Linked DNA regions of Homo sapiens. The protein of the gene in region 2 interacts with the protein of the main gene of each other region in a pairwise test. Each region holds a gene or a part of one and is shown on either strand. Other genes may lie near its edges.

Region 1 (3,787 bases), about 29 Mb from region 2:
TACATGCAGAGCAAGGTCAATTACGTGGTATGATTGGAGGAACCTATGAAAAGAATCCCAAGCTAGAAACCTCTCTAATAAACCCATCACAATATCTAAAATATCTGCCATTAAGAGCTCAGTGACTTTAGATGCATCCAAGTATGCAACTCAGAGCTAGAATGTATCTCAGGAGGGCGGCAGGTGTGGTTCTGTGTTGTCACTCAAGGCTGGCGCCACAAGGGGCAGGCAGAGCCCTTGAGCCCACAGGTAGAGGGGAAATGGACTAGCCAGTCCTGCGCACTGCTGTTGTAAGAGCAGCCAGGGAGTCCAGGGCACAGAGTCTATGGGGAGGACAAGATCAAGCCCAGAGAAGGTTGAAGCAAGTGTCAGCTTAGGGACAGCCATTCCAACAGGCTCAAGAGTTGAGACATCCAATGCTGATGCCGGAGGCACCGAGCTGTGTTCCCAGAGCTCTGTTCTTCACTCTCGCCATGGCTAAGAATACATAAAGCATGAATCAAACCAACGGAGGAGAGAAAAACAAAAACACTCCCAAGCTTAAAGGAAGACTGGGGCAAAAGGCAGAGAATCATGGCAGACACCCAGACCCACAGCCAGGGCCAACACAGTGGAACAGGGAGGGGGTCCTGTGGCCCAGGAGTCACTCCCACCGTGATTTACGCTGAGTCCCACCAGATGGGGAGGCTGGGCTGCCATCAACCTCCTTTCCAGATCCAGATTAGCTCAGGCACTGGAGGGAGCCTGTCAGTGCCGACAGGCCCCATGAGCAGTGAGAAGCCAGGCAGGCAGGCACAGGCTGCCTTCACCCAGACACGGCACTGTCCCTATCTCCTAAATGACCTGACAGGAGCCCAGAGAGGATTTCCAGCTGATCTAATGTCTAGTATGTGACCTTGGCCAGAGAGACAAACCATGAAGTGTTCTCTCCACGGTGCCAAGGTGGATTAAGTCATTTTATCACCAGAATTCCTCTTTTAAAAGGTAAGAGTCCTTACAGGGTGAGAAAAACACAAAACCAATGATCCATTAACAACTTTAACAACTTAAACCTTTTTTTTTTTCCTAACAGAGATTGGGAGACTAGTCACAGAGGCAGATTCTGAGAGAATCAAAAGGTTTAGGGTGTTTTTGTATGTTTTGAGATTTGATGGGGGTGGCGTTCAGAAGAGTAGAGAAGAACAAGATACAGCTCAATTCTCTAAACAAATTACATCCAGCACATAAGTAAAAAGCAACTAACCAGGAACAATCACCAAAATAAAGCCTCTGAGACAGCTCAAAATTTACAAGTGAAACAACGAAAATTAAAACAACAAACCAATAAAGGGGAAACCAAGCATCTCTGGGAAGACCAACACAAGAAAACCTTAATAAGATAAAATCAGTTCATTCTTAGAGAAGGATCAACGTCTTGGCTAAAAAAGAAGGCCATTCCTTCCCATTTGTTCTCAAGGCCTCCCAAGAGACTACTGAATCCATACAAATTAATTAATAAGTATGATCAAAATGAGGAAAAGGTAGGAAGAGTTTAATGTGTACATACATTAAGAGGTTAATGTGTACACACATTCTCCTATAGTCTAGATCCTCAAAACTCAAAGATATCTTTACAAAAATTTAAGTGGACTATTTTAAATCTTACTAAAATTACTCAATTACAACACTGGAGAAGCACCGAGGTCTTAGGCAGTAGGTTCTGGATTTCTTTTTTATAGGGACGTTAAATTGAAGGGATTTCAACTCTGATACTCTTCCCAGGATTTACAAAATAACAAAACCTAGGTTTCCAATTCAGTAAATCCCAATTTAATTTTAGAATTAAAATATTGCCACCAATTAAATTACTTTAAACATGTAAAAAATATTTTAAGTTCTGAAACAAGAGAAGGTGTTAACTATCAAGTTTAAATGCATAATTTCTTCCATTACTTCCACCCTTTCCTTCCCACACACACAAAAAACATATATATCTCTCTCTATATACATATATACATATACACACACACACACCTCTAGAACTTACGGTATACAGGATTTTCAAAAACATATGAAGATTTTAAAAGTGATTTTTAGGAGATAGGAAACTATAAAGTGAAGAAGTGAATGAATGATAAACCCCCAATTCAGGGCTTTTCACTGCGTGGGGGTTGGGAATGAGACAAGATTGGGAAGGAGTGCCCGGGGTTTTTAAAGGCAATCGTAATATTATTTTTCTTAAACTGAGTGATGAGGAGACGGGTGTTCGCTGTACCATTATTCTCCATATCTTACTTATATTTTGTAATATTATTTAAAATAGTCAATATTTAATAAATACAAGTCTTTTTTAAAAGAGTTTATGTGATTGTCACCGTGGAAGGTATTCAAAGACATATATAAATCAAACCCTCACTTCAGAATGTTTTTTTCAATAGCAGTGTTACTCAGTAAAAAGTAAAACAATTAAGATGACTGTACGAATTTGTTCCAGAGCCAACCTTCTACAGAATTAACAAATCTTGAGAAAAACCTTATTTTTCTAAACTTCTACACAGATATGCTCAATTTTTTTCCCATTATGTACTGCTTCATTCTGTTTGCTTTTTTAAAAAGCTATTTTTCCTCAGCTTCTCTGTAACTCTCATCATTTTGTAAAAAATGCCTTAATTCTTTCTAACTCTCTGAATGAATCTGAAGAAATAATGGGGTTATGGCCGAGCATGGTGGCTCACGCCTGTAATCCCAGCACTTTGGGAGGCCGAGGTGGGCGGATCACCTGAGGTCGGGAGTTTAAGACCAGCCTGACCAACATGGAGAAACCCCATCTCTACTAAAAATACAAAATTAGCCGAGCATGGTGGCACATGCCTGTAATCCCAGCTACTCGGGAGGCTGAGGCAGAAGAATTGCTTAAACCCGGGAGGCAGAGGTTGCAGAGAGCCGAGATCGCGCCATTGCACTCCAGCCTGGGCAACAAGAGTGAAACTCCGTCTCAAAAAAAAAAAAATGGTATTATACCTCTACGAATGACATACAACAGCATGATCTGTATCACCCAAAATGACCATAAAATTAAATTCAGTATTTTGATAGTGAAAGGCTTTCAGTTCACCTGTTTTGTTGTTTCCAACTATATGATGCCAGCAGAAACCTCTAAGTCAAATATCAGGAAAACACCAATAATTTTTTAACATTTCTCCAACTCTATGTTATCTATTCTGCTTTCAATAAAGTCATAAAAACATCTAGATACATTTTGTTCAGACATGTGGAGTATTTAATTTTGTAAGGACAATCCAAGCAGTGAATTCCAGTGGTCCTCAAAAGCCAGCTATGTCTAATATTTCAAAAAGCCTAAAGATACATTTAACTGTAACGAGCCCAGACTAGGAATGAAAATACTTTTGCTTTTTCCACTGGGATCTTACCAGGTCTTCCTAAAGTTAGCTGGCTATGTCATGCTGATCAGGTATTCAGACATATGTCAAAATATGAGGTCCATGGAGCAAAAATAGTAAAAGTGGTCTTATTATCAGTATTCATTTTTTTTAACCAGTATTTAAAAAATAGCAACCACGAAGTCTGGGGCCCACTGAACCGGAATAGTTCTATCACTCTTATCAGAAACCCCAGAGAACCTTGATTCTCTAACTTTGTTAAAAATTTGCAAGCCAACTTTCAATTACTTTTTTTTTTCAATTTTTAATTTTTGCCAGTTCAGTTCTCTGCCCCTCTATCTTTGTGAAACAGAGTCAAGGGAGGTTAAGAAAAAGCAAGTGTTTCCATATCACATCTTCTTCCTGCT
Region 2 (3,787 bases):
GAATTAAATTAATTAATTAACTTTTTGCATTCTATCCATTCAGTTCCACACCCAGAACTACATTAATTCAATGTAATTAATTATATTAATTTTTGCATTCTATCTATTAATTAAAGAAATTACATTAACATGGGCTAGAAGGAGGTTGCAAAAGAATATGACCCTACAAGCAATATAAAATTTATTTTACAACATGAAAGATATTAAGAGATACATGGTAGACATTCAAACAATTTGCTGCTTTAAATCACAGTATCACATGCAGCAGGCATTAAGGACTTCACATGAGGATAATAATGCCAAGGGGTAGTCTCAGATGCTGTGGGAACTTGTCCATACTTGAAGTTAATTGAGAAACACTTCCTGGTTTCACTAAGCCAAAAGGATAACCTTCATGGACCAAATTCCCACTGCATCCCCTCCTGTGAGTTGTGGTCAAGTTTCCAAAAGACCACTGTGAACAGTTCCCTAGGTGGGTAACAACATTGTTTAAGTTAATTTATAAAATTGATTCACTAGGATGGCCCTGAGAATAAAGGGTCATAAGGCAGGTAATTCTTACCCTGTTTAAGGGAAGGCAGAGGTTTATAAGAAGTCTGATGAAAGGAGTGTTGTCAGGAAAGGTAATTCAATTTGGAATGAATTCCTTTGAAAGAGAGAACAGTATTTCTGTCCCTGCAGGAAAACCAATGACTATTAAAAGTGGATTTGTTTTCATGAATCCAGGTGTTTTAAATGACTTCTACCACCTGCACTTCCCTCTACATTTTACTAGATAATATGTATCATTTAACATACTGTTCTAAAACGTATTTTATTTGGCACTATGAAAGGATTTAGTGATAGATGCCCTTATAATGAATAACATTTGAATTATTTCTATTACTAAGTACAGTAACAACAATCACACAATAAACTTGGGTGTAATGCACACCATGTGCCAAAACATTCTAAAGACTTAACAGTACATATAATGATGGAAAAGAAATGAATGGATAGAATGCAAAAAACTTTGAAATTAAAAGGTCAAATACCATATAAGTTATCATTTGCTACCCCATAATTATATCTTTGAGCTTTGTCACATTATAAATTAAATATACCTTTCTATGTGTGATATATTTAAAAATTACATTTGTAAAACTACAATAATTTTAACAAATATAATTTAATTTAAAAAATAAACTTTTAGTTAATAAGAAAAACTAGACACCAAGATTAAAACAATGATTGTGTAGAATTGATGGTGATTTTTTTTCTTTTCTCTCTTTTTCAGATTTTCTATATGTGAATTTATATCTTTTCATGAAATAAGTGCATTTATGTATTTTTTTTAAAAAGCATTAATCATGTACCCTCCTTTCAGTTCCGTGGCTGATGATTCTTTTTCCATAATTCTCTGATCATAGATAAAATATTCTTCTTGAACATCTATTTAACGTGGCTGTGTTTAAACAACAATTTTATTTAAATCTCTTCCATGTCTCCTTGAAAGTGCAGCAATTTGCATAAAATAGCTTCTGAACGCCTCTTCCAAAAAGTTTTGATGATGTTCAAAGAATATGGAACTGAAAAAATTCCATTCGGAGGCCAGAAACATAACTTCACAGAGCCTTCAGGTATGACCACAGAAGGTAGACTGAGAAGCATGGAATCTGTTATACTTAGCATCAGAGAGTTGATAATGAGCAGTGGCACGACTGCTTCACATGATGCAGCTAGGCTTAATAGATTTCTCTGGACACCCAATACTCTGATCTAATCAATAACACACTTTACACAAAAGTGTCCCTTTTATTTCTTTGAGAATCAGTAAACATTTGTCTTATTCTAATAAGACTGTTCATAAGGCAGGAACTGGTTTCTTTCTTGGATCTTATCAGCAAAAGGCAGTTACCAGAGTAAATCGTTTTCTTTCTTGCTGAAGATGATAACTAATGGTGCATGAATCTCTGAAACATGTAATTTCCTGGATACTTGGTACATTTCTTTAAAAAAGATTTTGTCTGTGGTTTTCATTGCCTCTTTAAAAATTCTAACTTCACACTGGGAAGTTTTAAGATAAAAAAAAAAGAAAAGAAAAAAGAAAAATTTTAACTTGAAAACCATTTAGAAATTGACTAACCTTTTATCTCTGATGTTGACACTAACTTCTTTCAAAGTTTTACTTTGCCATTGTAAAGAAATCTAAAACCATCAATACTGTGAAAATATTTCCACAAATATAGTATTATGAACTACAGAGTAAATATATCCTTCATTTAACCTAAGGGCTTAAATTAAAAGCCACAAGAAATGGCTGATGAACAATATATTTACGCCATACTCTAACTTCTAGACAGGACTTTCTGTTTTTACTTTATTTATAATAAATATTCTTAGACCCAAATCTCCCCATTGGAAAAACTTATTTGAGAGCAAATAAAATCTAAATTCTATGCCAAAGAGAACAGAGAACTAGCTTTAAAGTTTGGGAACAATTTCCACAAATTGTAGATTTATTATTTAGATAAAAGGAACTCAGAGCATGAACAGTAATAGAGAAATGGTATACTGGAGAGTCTAAAACCTCTATTAGGAAAAAGTACATTTTGTTCCATTAAATGACACTAGAGGAAACTCAGGTAAAGGCAAACAGAGTAATTATTTGGGAAACACATGAAAAGGTTGCTTTGTATTCAAACAAAGAATGGGTCTATTCAGGAGAATAATTCACTGGCATGGTTTGCCATGCAGTAAATTTTCTTTTCATGGAGAAGCATAAAAGACACCCAAATATTATCAAGAGAGGAGTGCTGGAGGTCATTTAACTTGCTTCCAATGGACTTGGCTGAATATTAGGATTGTTCCTTCCAGATGAGATGAAGACATCATTTAAACAGCAAAATGGGACAACTCATAAGGCCTTTGTTCTGGCACTCCTTTTAGGGTAGACATAGAGAAAGGAAGCAGAGAATTGCATTAACCCCTTATTGAGAGGAATGAAGAGAATCCAGTATTTCTCTTCTACCTTTGAAGTTCTGTGTTTATGGTGTGTACTTAATCTAATAAGCACAATAATTGTAGGAGCCTCTGAGTTAAGAATCAAAGATCTTTCAGAAAACCAAGGACTTCAAACCTCTTTTAACCCATATATCATGATGCTGACCTAAGTGCTCATGGAAGAACATTAAAACAATAAAGTTATCATCTTTGTTCTAAAGAAGGTTTCAGGCATTTATAGATACAAAACACACAAAAGCTGTAAGGTTTGAAAATTTTCAAATAATTTTTGTTGAATGTTTATTATACTGCAGTTACTGTTTATTTAATTCTCACAACAGCCTATTATTGTTACAGCATACAAGTGAATTCAGATTCGCAGATTCACTGTGAATTCAGATTAGCAGATTCACTGGGTATGAGAGGTACTAAAGAGATGTAAAATAGATCGTACGCTGTAAGTGAAGGGCCAGAAAAAATCTAAAATAAGCAAGAAAGGAAAATAGTTCAATGTTAAAGACCCAAACAAAACGAATAAGCATGCCCAATGATTAAAATAATCTGAATATCTAGAGCAAAAATTGCCAGATCTCACATTCTTCCTCAGAATTCTTCTTGTTACCTCTGCAAAATTTCATCCTTCAAACTCAAAGCTCATTATCTTTGGACTCTGTGACACTCTTCTGATTCTCATATCACTTCTTGATTTTCCTGCATTTCCTCATTAACTCTCAGCTCATAATCATATAAAATCACTAAGACTCTTTTTATATTGTCATGAAGCTCAGGTATTTTCACAGATTGA

The links.
Region 1: the proteins of WIF1 (region 2) and CRADD interact in a two-hybrid assay, tested with the Homo sapiens proteins (one large-scale study listed by BioGRID and IntAct).

Annotation. Positions count from the first base shown.
Region 1 is NC_000012.12:93,680,091-93,683,877, reverse strand, and holds part of CRADD (death domain-containing protein CRADD), read right to left. Parts: intron 1-3,787. UniProt on the Homo sapiens protein: Adapter protein that associates with PIDD1 and the caspase CASP2 to form the PIDDosome, a complex that activates CASP2 and triggers apoptosis.
Region 2 is NC_000012.12:65,079,796-65,083,582, forward strand, and holds part of WIF1 (wnt inhibitory factor 1 precursor), read right to left. Parts: intron 1-3,787. UniProt on the Homo sapiens protein: Binds to WNT proteins and inhibits their activities. May be involved in mesoderm segmentation.